Linked DNA regions of Homo sapiens: region 2 is linked to region 1. The links come from fine-mapping of genetic effects on gene expression. Tissue or cell type: putamen. Region 1 holds a variant in brackets; the other region holds the start of a gene. All regions are shown on one strand. Distances are from middle to middle.

The links. PIP is the estimated chance that this variant, and not a neighbour inherited with it, causes the effect.
Region 2: it holds the start of SUCLA2-AS1, and the variant in region 1 is fine-mapped to the expression of SUCLA2-AS1 in putamen (GTEx, PIP 0.93).

What each region holds. Positions count from the first base shown.
Region 1 is chr13:47,847,361-47,855,469 of GRCh38, forward strand. No RefSeq gene overlaps it. Among named protein-coding and RNA genes, the nearest start is that of LINC00562, 81 kb to the right of the region's middle. The variant A/G (reference allele first, on the strand shown) is at 3,343.
Region 2 is chr13:47,997,965-48,006,056 of GRCh38, forward strand. SUCLA2-AS1 (SUCLA2 antisense RNA 1) reads left to right here and starts at 3,441. Exons shown (of 2, transcript NR_189308.1): 1 at 3,441-3,858; 2 at 4,471-4,727. SUCLA2 (succinate-CoA ligase ADP-forming subunit beta) reads right to left here and starts at 3,309. Exons shown (of 11, transcript NM_003850.3): 1 at 3,216-3,309. The coding sequence starts at 3,305. RefSeq lists enhancers at 2,944-2,993, 3,014-3,063, 3,084-3,273, 3,650-4,849, 5,521-6,118 and 1 more and a silencer at 3,394-3,503.

The DNA.
Region 1 (8,109 bases):
ATGACACTCTCTACCTACATTGGCAAGGAGAAGTTCTGAGTCTTTGCAGGAAGCCCACCACATTCCAAGGTATCTTCTTGTGTTGGATGTAGGGTTTTCAGAACTTCAATTCTTGTTAGAATCAGTATTTACCCAAATCAATTTTCCCTGTCCTTAGCACCAATTTCCAAACTTATAATTCCATTTACTTTCAGTTTTAGGATTCTGCGTCTGTATGGTCACGGGTACGTATTTCCTGCTGTCATCACAGGCATGGAAATAAAATTTTGTGAATCCGAGTATTTCCCATAGACTGAGGTCTCGACTGCTTATACTGGCACACCTCGTTTTATGCACTTCACTTTATTGTGCTGTGCAGATATCGTATTCTTACAGACTGAAGGTTTGTGGCAACCCTATATCCAGCAAATCTATTGGTGCCATTTTCCCAACAGCATGTGCTCACTTCATGTTTCTGTGTTACATTTTAGTAATTCTCTCAATATTTCAAACATTTTCATTATTTTTGGGGAGCAGCTGGTTTTGGTTACATGAATAAGTTCTTTAGTGGTGATTTCTGAAATTTTGGTGCACTCATCACATGGTCAGTGTACACTGTACCCAATGCATAGTCCTTTAACCCTCATGCCCCACCCGCCCTTTCGCCTGAATCCCCAAAGTCTATTACATCATGTTTATGCCTTTGTGTCCTCATAGCTTAGTTCCCACTTATAAGTGAGAATACACAACATTCCATTCCTGAGTTACTTCACCTATAATCATGGTCTCCAACTCCATGCAGGTTGCTGCAAATGTCATTATTTTGTTTCGATTTATGGCTGATTCGTTTTCCATGGTGCATATATACCACATTTTCTTTATTCACTAATTGTTTGATGGACATTTAAGCTGGTTCCACATTTTTTGCAATTGCAAATTGTGCTGCTATAAACATGTGTGTGCCAGTGTCTTTTTCATATAATGACTTCCTTTCCTTTGTGTGAAGAATACCCAGTAGTGGGATTACTGGATTGAATGGTGGTTCTACTTTTAGTTATTTAAGGAATCTCCATACTGTTTTCCACAGTGGTTGTACTGGTTTACATTTCTACCAGCAGTGTAAAAATGTTCCTTTTTCACCACATCCATGCCAACATCTATTTTTTTTTTCATTTTTAAATTATGGCCATTTTTGCAGGAGTAAGGTGGTATCACATGTGGTTTTTATTTGCATTGCCCTGATAATAAGTGATGCTGAGTATTTTTTTTTATACTTTAAGTTCTAGGGTACATGTGCACAACGTGCAGTTTTGTTACATATGTATACATGTGCCATGTTGGTGTGCTGCACCCATTAACTCGTCATTTACATTAGGTATATCTCCTAATGCTATCCTTCCCGCCCCCCCCACCCCCCACCCCACCACAGGCCCCGGTGTGTGATGTTCCCCTTCTTGCGTCCATGTGTTCTCATTGTTCAATTCCCACCTATGAGTGAGAACATGTGGTGTTTGGTTTTTTGTCCTTGTGATCGTTTGCTGAGAATGATGGTTTCCAGCTTCATCCATGGCATTTTTTTATTTGTTTGTTGGCCATTTGTTTATCCTCTTTTGAGAATTGTCTGTTCATGTCTTTTGCCCACTTTTTGTTGGGATTATTTCTTTTTCCTTGCTGATTTGTTTGAGTTCCTGTATACTAGTCCTTTGTTAAATGCATAGTTCACAAATATTTTCTCCCACTCTGTGGGTTGTCTGTTTACTCTGCTGATTATTTCTTTTGCTGTGCAGAAGCTTGTTAGTTTAATTAGGTCCCATTTATTTATTTTTGTTTTTGTTGCATTTGCTTTTGGGTTCTTGGTCATAAAGTCTTTGCATAAGCTCATATCTAGAGAGTATTTCTGATGTCTTCTTCTAGAATTTTTATGGTTTCAGGTCTTAGATTTAAGTCTTTGTTCAATCCTGAATCAATGTTTGTATAAGGTGAGAGATGAGGATCAAGTTTTATTCTTCTACATGTGGCTTGCCAATTATCCCAGCACCATTTGTTGAATAGGGTGATCTTTCCGTAATTTATGTTCTGTTGTGGTGTGTTTGAGACGGAGTTTCACTCTTGTCACCCAGGCTGGAGTGCAATGGCACAATCTGGGCTCACTGCATCCTCAGCCTCCCAGTTTCAAGCAATTCTCCTGCCTCAGCCTCCCAAGTAGCTGGGATAACAGACACCCGCCACTATGCCCGGCTAATTTTTGTATTTTTAGTAGGGATGAGGTTTCACCAGGTTGGCCAGGTTTGTCTCAAACTCCTGACTTCAGTGATCTGCCCACCTTGGCCTCCCAAAGTGCTGGGATTACAGGTGTGAGCCATGGCGCCCAGCCCCCAATTTATGTTTTTGTTTCTTTGTCAAAGATCAGTTAGCTGTAAGTATTTGGATTTATTTTTGGGTTCTCTATTCTGTTCCATTGGTCTACATGCCAATTTTCACACCAGCCCCATGCTGTTTTGGTAACTGTAGCCTTGTATTATAGCTTAAAGTCGGGTAATGTGATGCCTCCAAATGTGTTCTTTTTGCTTAGTCTTGCTTTGACTATGTGGGCTCCTTTTTGGTTCCATATGAACTGTAGAATTTTTTTTTCTAGTTCTGTGAAAAGTGATGATACTATTTTGATGGGAAGTACACTGAATCTGTAGATTTTGGCAGTATGGCCATTTTCACAATATTGATTCTACCCATCCATGAGCATGGGATGTGTTTCCATTTATTTGTGTCATCTATGATTTCCTTCAGCAATGTTTTGTAGTTTTCCTTGTAGAAATCTTTTACCTCCTTGGTTAAGTACATTCCTAGGTTTTTCGGGGTTTTTTTGTTTTTGTTTTTGTTTTTGTTTGCAGCTGCTGTAAAACGGATTGAGTTATTTATTTGATTCTCTGTTTGGTTGTTGTTGGTGTATAGTCATACTACTGGTTTGTGTACATGAATTTTGTATCCTGAAAATTTATTTAATTCATTTATCAGTTCTTCGAGTTTTATGGATGAGTCTTCAGGGTTTTCTAGGTATATGTCATATCATCAGTGAACAGCGACAGTTTGACTTTCTCTTTACTGATTTGGATGCCCTTTACTTCTTTCTCTTGTCTGATTGCTCTGGCTAGGACTTCCAGTACTATGTTGGGTAGAAGTGGTGAAAGTTGGCATCCTCGTCTTGTTCCAGTTCTCAGGGGCAACGCTTTCAACTTTTCCCTGTTCAGTATTATGTTGCTCCTGACTTTATTTCTGTGTGAGTTGTTTCTTCAGGATAGCTTTTCTTTGTAACACAATGGTAGCAGCAAGTTCAGGCTGTAAATCCATATTCTTTGTCATCCAAAA[A/G]GAAAGAGATTTCCTGTGTCCCACAACTCCCAAAAAATTTTTCAAAGCATCACATTGATTAGACAACCTCTAAAGCAATCCCTTGAACTAAGGGAATATCATGTACTGAATGGCTTAGTATTCAATTACCTGGAGCAGTAAACATGGACTCAGGGCAAGATGTGGATTTGCAGCATTTGCCAATTTCCATGGTGTAAATATTCCCACGATAGCCAATAAAGTGTGTGAGAGAGAGGAAAAATGGAAACACTATGAAGAATGCCAGAAATATTGTCAAGAGACAGGGAATGAAGAAACAACAGAACATATCTTAAGGCATTGAGGGAAAAATAATATCTTTTGCTGATTTAAGTCTACTTAATAAAATGGTTACACACATAAATACTAGAATAATAGATACCAAACTATGAACAGTTATTATTTCTTGGTGGTAGCCATATGAGTAAACTTCCTTGTATTTTTTAAATATATATATATATGAATAAACAACATATTTCTTTTACAAGAGGAAAATATGGTATTTTCATAATACTATTTGCCAAAACACATCTGGAATTGATGTCAGAATTCAGCACTCCTAATGCAGCATTCTCTACTTAATTATGTAAAATCACTCAACAAACATTCTCCTCATGCAAAGAAGTAGAATGAAATTGTTGGTAAAGGAAATGGCTGATTTTACACATTATAAACTCACTCCTTCTGCAGTGTCATTCAAATATTTATTGATCACCCTCTACCTACCATAATCATTTTCCATGAATTGTTCCCAAAACAATTTTATTGATATTAATCTTTATAATAATATTCCAAACTTTTAATTGCAATAAAAATCATCAAAATAAATGCATGTTATACTGATTTATCATCTTATTTAGCTATTACTGTGATGCTTACTTCACACTACAAGACATGAAAAAATTGAAAAAATGATGAAGTTGATAGACCAGAAAAACTATCTATTAATTATGTGAGGAACTTAAATTATCAAAAACTAAGTGGTTTTCCTTGCTTTAAAGAAATTACAATGTCTGAGTGGCAGATGAAATGAAATAAGACAGAAATTCATCTTTCTTCCTCTGCCCCTCATTCATAAGCCTTTTTGTTCATTTCAAAATGGAAAGCAAGAAGAATTAATGAGATTTTTGCCTGAAGCATATCCCTCTAAACCCACATCTATTTAAATTAAAAATTCACCAAAATAGTGTCTGCATTTTCAGTAATTCTTGAAAAACAATTGTATAGCCTCCAAATGACAATCTCAAAAGATAAAGAAATAATACAAATATATTTAAAAAACAACTGTCTGAATCTATATATTTTTCCTCTTGAGTCTTTTTTCAAATTGAAGTCTTCAGATGAAATGTTTATAAGCCTATTCAAGTGTCTGCACTTATTTCTACACCTAGCATAAGATCATAACATTTTATCGTGTTAGAAAAGCAGCACTTACAGGACAACTGCTCTGAAATTCATATGCCACAGCATATAACTGAAGGATTTTCAGTGGAGTGGTCTTGAGAGTAGATGATTTTTCTCCCCAGGGGTCTGCCTTCCATACTAGATTAGGAACTCCTCAAGGCAAGGGATTTTCTTTATGTCATAGGCACCTTTGCATATTGGTGGACATATAATTGGTTTCAGTGAATATTTATTAAATAAATGAATCAGTAATTGAATAAAGCTCTGCTTTGCCCAGTGGCTCAAATTCATGAATCCAGAAACAACCTTAAATTTGAATAAGCAGAGATGTAAAATTGCATGTAGGACATAGTCACATGGTGGCTTCTCAAGTCATCCGCAGTCCATCCATCCTCAAAACCTCAAAAGCTCCTTGAGCCTTCTGACCACTTTCTAAGGCAAAGAAATTATGGCATCTCCATCTTATTCATTGAAAGGTGTTGCCCAATTTAGGTTTCAAGGGGTCCTTCTAGCAAGCTGTTAAGATAAGCACCCAGTGTGTGACTGGAACACTGAATCCTGAGTTATGGGTGCCCCTCTATCACAGAATTCTCCCCTATCCAGCCTATACTCCTCCCTCTCAGGACTAACATTTTCAAGATCCACCTCTGATGTGCTGCCTCATTTCCTCCGGGCACTTCTTACCCACATTCTCTAACTCCTTTATAGGGACCACTTCACCCTAAAGAAGGGCTCTACTTCCCCATTCAGGCTGAGCTGAGACCTGAATCTGGTTATCGGCCTGAAGGCAATGAGGGTGGTGGACTTGAGCTTGAGGAGAACCAGCCAGTCGACTGCCTCGCCCTCACCTGAAGCTTCTCAAAGTATCCAGACAATGGGAAGCAAGAGGGCTTGTTTTCCTTTGGAAAGGGTGATGGAGCTGCTTCTGCCAATGAGGAGGATCCAGAGGAACTGGGACCCTTACGGTACCCTCCTGTGTCTCAAAGTGCCCATCTTTTCCTCTCAGGGTGCTAAATTTGTCAGAGGAACCTTGTTGAGATGGTGCGCATAATATGTCTTGCATTTCTGCCGCCCTTATAATTAAATCCAGAGCTGGATTTTCAGCACAGGCTTCATGGTAGCTGTGAGAAATGAGTCCTTTAAAGCTGCCTTAGGAACACTCTGGCTGACAAAGCATGGCTTAAATGTGTCTGTGATTCTCTTTTTATAAAGCTACTAATTCCATCAAAAGAAGATACCTCATGCCACAATCCTTATAAATTTTGTTCCTCTCATAACAACCAGATGCATCAGTCACGCATCTACCAATGCCTTGTCTTATAACTACACTTCTCAATAAACCACAAGTGAAAACTTCAGTAATTTTTATGAGTAATCAGCAGAAGAATGCTCCCTGCAGAGATATGTACTTTCCAGAAGCTGTGAATATGCCACTTTACATATAGACAAAAGGGACTTTGTGGATGTGATTGAGGTTAGGTAGTTTGAGATGGGGAGATTATCCTGGATTATCAAATGGGCTCAGTCTAACCATTCGAGTTCTTAAAGACAGAGATACTTTCCTAACTGGGTAAGAAGTGACCATGGAATAAGGGTCAGGGAGCTGCTACTGCATTGCTGGCCTTTGAAGACAGAAAAAGGGGCCACAAGCCAAGAAAGTACAGGTGACTTCTAGAAGCTAGAGAAGACAAGGAGCCAGCTTCTCCTTTGGAGCCTCTGGAAAAGAACACAGCCTTACTGACACTTTGACTTTAGCCCAGTGAGACCTCTATCAGACTTCCACCCTACAAATTTTAAGATAATAAATTAGGCCAGGCTCACATCTGTAACCCCAGCACTTTAAGAGGCTGAGGTGGGTGCATCACTTGAGGTCAGTAGTTCGAGACCAGCTTGGCTAACATGGTGAAAATTCTTTCTCTACTAAAAATATAAAAATTAGATGGGCATGGTGGCAGGTGCCTGTAGTCCCAGCTACTTGGGAGGCTGAGGCAGGAGAATTGCTTGAACCCAGAAGGCAGAGGCTGCAGTGAGCCAAGATCACACCACTACACTCCAGCCTGGGCAACAGTGTGAGACTCCATCTCAAAAAAATTTTTTAAATTTAATTTAAAAAAAAATAATTAATGCCTTGTGTTGTTTTAAGCCACTAAGATTATGGTAATTTGTCACGACAGCAATAGCTAATTCAGGATGCTGCTGTATGCCAGAATTGTCAGCATTTCATTTTCCACAAGCAATGAAGTTCCTAATGCTTTCAGACAGATAGGCAACTCAACCCAAAATCCAGTCTTGAGGGTCTGCGTTCTAGACCCACTCCTCTACCTGCGTTTCCTAGAAAACAAAACCTGTGGCAGTTACCCATGTACTGAGGCTTTATAAAAAAGGACAATCCCAGGACAGCAAGAGTGTGGAAGGAAGTAGATCAAGTTAGCAAATATAAGGTCCACCTCATTTATCCACTTATCTAGCCACAGCTTATAAGACAACACAGCCAGTTGCTTGGCCATGTGGCCCATCTTCCAGACAGATCATGGAAAACCATTTCCCCTCAGAAGAGTCCAGCAGGGGAAGAAAGGGAAATGAATGGAACCTTTGAGCACATCTCCTGCCTTCATTAGTCAGAATGTTCCCTCCACACTTTCAAAGTCTTCACCCAGTAGGGCAACCCACTAGGGAACCCAGGTCCCGCTGCCTGTAGCGCAGAAGTGGAGTAATGGGCCAAGACTCCCCCGATCCTTAGGTGATGGCTGGGTGCAAGGTTGATGCAGCTCCTGCCAAGACATGCACCACGGACACCATGGAGAGCCCAACCATCGCCAAGTGGGCGGGGGAGGACTGAGACCCAGAGGGAGAAGATGAGGGGCCTTCCATTGAGCGAGCTGCTCAGGACCTGGGGGACAGGGCGAGCAATGAGAATCTATGGAGGCACATGAACAAGGTCTCATACAGCAGCTTAGAAAATTCCATAATGCAAGACCTCTAAAATTAGAAACCTAAGACAAATAGCAGAGGCAAAAATTTCCACTTTTAAAAGTTTTGTAATCACAAAATTTCATCAGCACACACACATACACACACGCACACAATCACCTAATTCATAATAACTACATGTTGATATACAAATTTTTGAGTTGGCCAGTCGTATTCAATAGACTTTTTGGACTGCCTTGGAAAAGTTCCACTTTTCTGAGTCTAACGTTTCTATACTAGATTAGCACTTCTTTTGTTGGTCAATGGGGAAATGGGACAAGACCAGACAATCTTACCTAGGTCTTATTGGAAGGGCTGGACCTACTATCCTTTGGTACCCTTTGATTCCAGGATGTCTTCTTGGCAGCCAATCAT
Region 2 (8,092 bases), 150 kb after region 1:
CTTAAGAACCCTACAGTTATGAGAACTACTAGTCTTACAAATCAATCATATATAATAGCAACTTATTTCTGATCCATTTAGCAAGCTAAAATCCTTGGTAACATTTGACCTAGGTAGCTCAATTCCTTGATTTAGTGTCACTTCAATATTAAAAGCCAGCAACCAAGCTGGGCACAGTGGCTTACACCTATAATCCCAGCTACTCCTGAGACTGAGGCAGGAGGATCCCTTCAGCTCAGGAGTTTGAGACTGCAGTGAGCTGTGATTTCACCACTGTCCTCCAGCTTGGTCAACAGAGCAAGACCCTGTCTAAAAAAACAAATAAATAAGTTAAAAAAAAAAAAAAAAAGAAAAAAAAACCCAGCAACCTCTCAAACTACTGTTTAGTATACCTCCACCTTCTGACTCAGAAATCCCATTCCTGGGTATGTATCAATAGAAATTAGTCCTTACATCTGTCAAAAGGCACACATAAAAATGTCTAGAGTGTCCAGAGCAGGCTTATTTATAACAGACAGAAAACAGAAATTAGCTGATTGCCCATCAACAGGAGAATGGATAAACTGTGGTATATGTATATAATAGTATACTACAGAGAAATAAAAAGAAAAAAAGTACTATGGCTCACACATCGATGGATTAATCTCACAAACATAATGTAGAGAGAAAGAAGCCAGAAACAAGAATATATACTTACATGATTTATTTTTATAGCGTTCAAAACCAGTCAAAATTAGCCTATGGTGACAGAAGTCATAATTGGTTGCTACCTTCTGTCAGGGAGTATTGATAAGAGAGAGGACATGAGAGCCTTCTGAGGGCTGGAAACATTGTATATCTTGATGCAGACGATGGTTACACAGGTGAATACATACATAAAAATTAATCTAGCTATCCACTTAAGCTGTACATCTTACTGTACATAAATTATACGTCAAAATAATAATAAAAATTAGTGGGTAGGGGAGTAACTAGCATAAGCCTGGCAAAAAGTCATACACTCAAATATTTTTTGTGATGACTATGAACTAGACAGTGGGCTAGGGACACTAAAAAAATAAAGACACTTGGGTCCCAGCCACAGAGTTCACAGGCATGTAAATAAACAACTGCAACACATATAAGAGCACTAGGTCACTAGCACATAAGTCACTAGGTGGCACCTAATTGGTTAGTTGGTCAGAGAAAATGTCACAAGGTCTCATCCCAGTTTAAATTTTTAAAAAATCTAATGTCTATAAAGAACACTTTGGGGACAACTAGAAAAATCTGAATCTAAACTATATATATTCATGTTACAGCAATGTTGAATTCCTAAGTATGATCACTGCGGTTATTTGGAAGAATGTCCTTATTCTTAAAGACATATGCTGAAATATCTATTTTCAACGAAGGTACACTAGGCTAAAGATACCAAGAAATTGGAGGAGGGTCAGAGAACTTAAACAAATGTTTAAAACAGGCCGGGTGCGGTGGCTCAAGCTTGTAATCCCAGCACTTTAGGAGGCCGAGGCGGGAGGATCACGAGGTCAGGAGATCGAGACCGTCCTGGCTAACACGGTGAAACCCCGTCTTTACTAAAAATACAAAAAATTAGCCGGACGTGGTGGCAGGCGCCTGCAGTCCCAGCTACTAGGGAGGCTGAGGCAGGAGAATGGCATGAACCCGGGAGGCGGAGCTTGCAGTGAGCCAAGATCGCGCCACTGCACTCCAGCCTGGGCGACAGAGCAAGACTCCGTCTCAAGGAAAAAAAAAAAAAAATGTGGAAAACAAATTGCTAAATTAAATGTGTGACCTTGAACGAGTTTCTTAAGACTCCGTACTTCTATGTCCTCATCTACAAAAGCAAAGGGTTGGACTAAGGTCCTTCCAAACTCTAGAGCTGCATTTCTTAATACCAGGGTAGAAGACAGCAACTGTTATAAAGAAAATAATATTGGAAATTTCCATAAGGAGAAATGAAGGCTTTTAAATGAACTTCCAAAAAGATAAAGATTTTGACTAGAATGAAAACGTATTTGTCACTAAATTCCCCATTTTCTAAAAACTAAATAGCACTCTTCTAAGATTCATAAGAAGGAAGTTCAAGGTCAAAAAGTCACTTCTATCGGGAAGCAAACTCACAGAACTCACTACCCCTAGGCTGAAAGTATGAACAACTTCAATAAAAATGAAAAAAAAAAAAAAAGGTAGGGGCGGGAGGGCCCTAAATCAATTCATACTATGACATGTATGAAGAGTTACTTCAGAAAAAAACCCAAAACTCTGGAATTGACTTAGGACACCAATAATGCCCTTCCACAGTTTTTTGTTGTCAAAGTTGGAAGGAAGATGTTTGTTTTCGAAGTTGTGGAGCCAACTCAAGTACACGGCTTTAGAACCAGACACCTCTGGGATTAAATCTCAGCTTTGATCTTACCTCCTATATGACCTAGTCCAAATTACTTGTTCTCTTAACCATAATATGTTCAACAATGATGCAGGTGTTGAATGACTTCCTCACAGTTGCTGAAAAACCTGAGAAACTACACGTAAAGCGCTTAGCACATTACCTGGCACACATCAAATATTCAAAACAAGGCCAGTAACTATTATGCTATAGCCTATCCAGAAATAAGGCTATACAAAAGATTATTTTCTTACCTCTCCAACTGGTTAGGTAGAAAACATAATCTTATTACTGCTATTAACAAGTAGAACAGTATACAACTACTTGGAGGAGAGGGGAAACTTCCCTACCTTGCCCCACAAAAGGCAAGTCAGTAAGCACCGCTGGTCCTCTGACATTCCCACCTATGACAGCTCCCAAGAAACACAAAAGTACTTTTGAAGGGCATTCCCCCCTGCCCAAAAAGGGGCGGCGCAAGTCTCAGCCCACCGTGCCAGACGCCGGAATGGCAGCAGAAAATGTCCTGACCCCCTCACCTCCACTCAGAGCCCACCTGCTCCCGCCCATCTCTTAGAAACTGCAGGAGCAGCCACGGCCGGGCCGCCGGGGATCCTCGCGGACTAAGGGCTGGGTCAGAGCCGCGCAAACATGGGCTCGCTCGTAGTCCTGGCGAGCAGCACTCCCAGGCAAGTCGCCCGAGGGCCTTGCAGGGCACCCAGAAAATGTCACTGCCGGCGAAGTGACCCCGAGCCGGGCCACGGGACCCCTCACACCTCACCCTTTCTCCTGCCGACCCTCGAGACGACAGCGGACTGGAAGGCATTACCTGAGCAGCAGCCCGCTGGGCCGTCCGAGGCCGGTGGTTCCGAAGGGTGGCCACGGCCACTAGCCTGCCGTAGAACATGGAGGCCGCCATTTCTGAGTCGGACCCCGTCCCCTCGGCGCCGCGCGCAGGCGCACAGGCGACAGGCGGCCCAAGGCGCAGCCTCTCTGCAGCGCTCACCTACGCCCCGCCTCGCGCCACCCGTTGGGGGCGGGGCCTCGGGTTAACACTGCAGCCGCTAGACCAGCTCCCTGGCGGGCGCGGAGCAAGCTTTGACCTTTGGAACTGGGCACCGCAGCCCCAATATCTGCCCTGCGGTCAGAGCAACCTGAACACTTCCTAGTGAATTGCAATGTAAAGGTGACCAGCGCCGCCACTTGGGTGATCTTAACTTCTCTCAGCCTCAGTTGCCTCATCTGTAAAATGTGTTTCATTCAAGAAATGATTACCCAGTGTCTACTTCGTGCTAAACAGCCTTGAGCCCTTGGCCTACAGCAATGAATAAAACCATTTGTGATGCTCAAAGAGAAGATGGTCGGTGTAACGCGCTTGTGATGCTCAAAGAGAAGATGGTCGGTGTCATGCGCTTCTGATGCTCAAAGAGATCGGTGTCACGCGCATCCGTGTGAAGACACCGCCAAACAGGGTGTGAGCAATAAGGCTGTTTATTTTAACTGGGTGCAGGCGGGCTGAGTCCGAAAAGAGAGTCAGCAAAGGGAGATAGGGGTGGGGCTGTTTTATAGGATTTGGATGGGTAGCGGAAAATTACAAAGGGGGTTTTTCTCTTACGGGCAGGGGCGGGGGTCACAAGGTGCTCAGTGGGGGAGGTTCTGAGCCAGGAGAAGGAATTTCACAAGGTTAATCACTCAGTTAAGGTGGGGCAGGAACAAATCACAATGGTGGAATGTCATCAGTTAAGGCAGGAACCGGCCAATTTCCCTTCTTTTGTGATTCTTCACTTGCTTCAGGCCATCTGGATGTACACGTGCAGGCTTGGGCTCAGAGGCCTGACAGTCGGCCACTAGTTACCAAAGCTGGTGGCAGGCTGGAGTCTCCAGGGAAGCTATTGATTGATTGATTGACTGATTGACAGGGTCTTGGTCTGTCACCCAGGCTGGAGTGCAGTGACGCGATCACAGCTCACTGCAGCCTCAACCTCCCATGCTCAAGGGATCCTCCCACCTCAGCCTCTGGAGTAGTTTGGGACCACAGATGTGTGTCACCAGGCTTGGTTGATTTTTTTATTTTATTTTTTTAGGGACAGAATCTCTCTATGTTGCCCAGGCTGGTCTCCAACTCGTGGGTTCAAGCGATCCTCCTGCCTCAGTCTCCCAAAGTGCTGGGATGACAGGTGTGGGCAACCACACCCAGCCAAGGATCTGGTTTTTGAAAAGATAAATAAATTTAACAAACCTCCAGCAAGACTGCAAAGAAAAAAGAAAAAGAGAAGACACAAATTACCAATGTGAGGAACATACCAGGGAATATAATTACAGAACCTTCAGACACCAAAAAGGAATGCCATAAATAACACCACATAACATAAATTTGACAACTTTGACAAGATGAGCGAATTCTTCAGAAGGCACAAATTACTACAAATAACCTAATATGAAAAGGTAATTTAAATAGTCCTCTAACTAGAGAAAATTGTAATTGTAATTTTTAAACTAAAAAAAAAAAAAACCTGAGATCTCCAGGCCCAAAAGCTTTCACTGATGAATTCTATAAAATGTTTACACAAGAATTAACACCAATTCCATACAGCCTCTTCCAGAAGATAGAAGAGGAAGGAACAGTTGCCAATGTACTGTATGAAGTTAGAATCACCCCACTACCAAAGCCAGCAAAAGACCGTACAAAAAGAAAAAAATACCAACACTTCTCATGAATATTGATGGAAAAATCCATAGCAAAATATTAGCAAATATAATTCAGAAATATATAAAAAGAATTGTACAATATGACCAAGTGGGATATATTCCAGAGATGTAAGTTTGTTTTAATATTTGAAAATATGTGTAATGCACTATATTAAGTTAGAAAAATCACATGATAATTTCGATCAAAACAAAAAAAGTAGCTGGGCACAATGGTTCATGCCTGTAATCCAAACACTTTGGGAGGCCGAGGTGGGAGGATTGCTTGAACCCAGGAGTTTGAGACCAAACTGGTTGGGCCACATAGCAAGACTTCATTTCTATAAATAATTTTAAAATTAGCCAGTCATGGTGGTGTACACCTGTGGTCCCAGCTACTCCAGAGACTGAGATGGGGGGGAAATCACTTGAGCCCAGGAGGTCCAGGCTGCAGTGAACCGTGATCGTGCCCCTGCACTCCAGCCTGAGTGACATAATGAGACCCCCATTACAAAAAAAAAAAAAAAACAGGCCAGGCATGGTAGCTCACGCCTGTAATCCCAGCACTTTGCGAGGCCGAGGCAGACAGATCATCTGAGGTCAGAAGTTTGAGACTAGCCTGACCAACACAGAGAAACCCCGTCTCTACTAAAAATACACAATTAGCTGGGTGTGGTGGCATGTGCCTGTAATTCCAGCTATTCAGGAGGCTGAGGCAGGAGAATCATTTGAACCAGGGAGGCAGAGGTTGCAGTGAGCCGAGATCGTGCCATTGCACTCCAGCCTGGGCAACAGGAGTGAAACTCCATCTCAAAAAAAAAAAAAACAAAAAAAGCATCTTACAAATTCCAACATTCATTCATGATTAAAAACTCAGATAAACAGGAATAGAGGGGAACTTCCTCATCTTGATAAACCGGATTACAAAAAACTTACGGCTAATATACTTAATGGTGAGAGAAGACTGAATGCTCTTCTCATAAGACTGGGAGCAAGGCAAGGGTGTTCGCTCTCACCACTTTTATTCAATATAGTGCTGGGAGTTCTTGTCAGTGCAATAGACAAGAAAAGCAATTACAAACATATGGAGTGAAAAGAAAGAAAGAAAACTCTCACTATTTACAGATAACATAATTGTTGCTATAGTTTGGATATCTGACCATCCAAACCTCATGGTGAAATCTGATTCTCCAATGTTAGAGGTGGGGCCTGGTGGAAGGTGTTTGGATCACGGAGGCCGATCCCTCATGAAGGGCTTGGTGCTGTCCTCTGGGTAATGAGAAGTTCTCATTGTATTGGCTCCTGTGAGAGTTCTCCCAAGAACTCATTGTTAAAAACAGCCTAGCACCTTCCCTCTTTCTCTCTCTCACTTCTGCTCTCTTCCAGTGTGATCTCTGCACATGCCAGCTCCCATTCACCCTCTGCCATTTGGGGAAGTTTCCTGAGTCCCTCACCAGAAGCAGATGCTGGCTCTAGGCTTTTTGTTTAGCCTGCAGAACCATGAGCCAAATAAACCTTTTTTCTTTATGAATTACCAACCCTCAGGTAATTTATACACAATTTTCACACGCGTCCATGTGAAGAGACCACCAAACTCACTTTGTGTGAGCAATAAAGCTTTTTAATCACCTGGGTGCAGGCGGGCTGAGTCGGAAAAGAGAGTCAGCAAAGGGAAATAGGGGTGGGGCCGTTTTATAGGATTTGGGTAGGTAAAGCAAAATTACAGTCAAAGGGTGTTGTTCTCTGGCAGGCTGGGGTGGGGGTCACAAGGTGCTCAGTGGGGGAGGTTCTGAGCCAGGAGAAGGAATTTCACAAGGTTAATCGCTCAGTTAAGGTGGGGCAGGAACAAATCACAATGGTGGAATGTCATCAGTTAAGGCAGGAACAGGCCATTTTCACTTCTTTTGTGAATCTTCAGTTACTTCAGGCCATCTGGATGAATACGTGCAGACTTGGGCTCAGAGGCCTGACAAGAATAAGATGATTGTCTGTGTATAAAATCCCAAACATTTTACCAAAAAAAAAAAAAAAAAACTCTTTGAATTGATAAGTGAGCCCTGCAAGATCTCAGGAAACAAGAAAAATATACAAAAATCAATTGTATTTCTAGGTACAAGCAATGAACACATGGACCCAAATCGAAAATACAATACCACCTAAAATTCCTTTTAAAAATGAAATGCATGTAAATCTAATAAAACATGAACAGGACTTACCTGCTGAAAACTACACAATACTGATGACATAAATCAAAGAAGATAAATAAGTGAAGAGATATTACCATGTTAATGGATTGGAAGACCTAACACAGTAAAGATGTCAATTCTTCCCCAAATTGATATATACATTTAATGTATTTCTATTAAAATTCAAGCAAAACTTTTTATACATACAGACGTAGTATTATAAACTTTATGTGAAAAGACAAACTAGAATAGCTGAAACAATTTTGAAAAGAACAAAGTGGGAAGAAACAGTCTGAGTTCAACATTTACTATAATAGCTACAATAATCAAGACTGTGTGGTATTGCTGGAGAGAGAGACACATAGATTGATGAAACTTAATAAGAAACCTAAAAATAGGCTCACACAAATATGCCCAACTGATTTTTGACAAAGGTGCAAAAGTAATTCAACGGAGGAAATATGGTCTTTTAAACAAATGGTGCTGGAGGAATTGGACATCCATAAGCAAGCAAACAATCAAAAAGAGCCCTGACCAAAATCTCACATATTATACAAAACTTAACTCAAAATTACCTTAACTGTAAAACACAAAACCATAAAACATTTAGAAAAAAATAGGAGAAAATTTCAAGATCTAAAACTAGGTAAAGAATTCTTAGACAACACCAAAAGCATGATCCATAAAAAAAAAATTGATAAATTGTGCCCCATCAAAATAAAAGCTTTGGCTTTGCAAAAGGCCATGTTAAGGTAAAAATTCAGCCAGGTGTGGTGGCTCACACCTGTAATCCCAGCATTTTGGGAGGCTGAGGGGGGTGGATCACCTGAGGTCA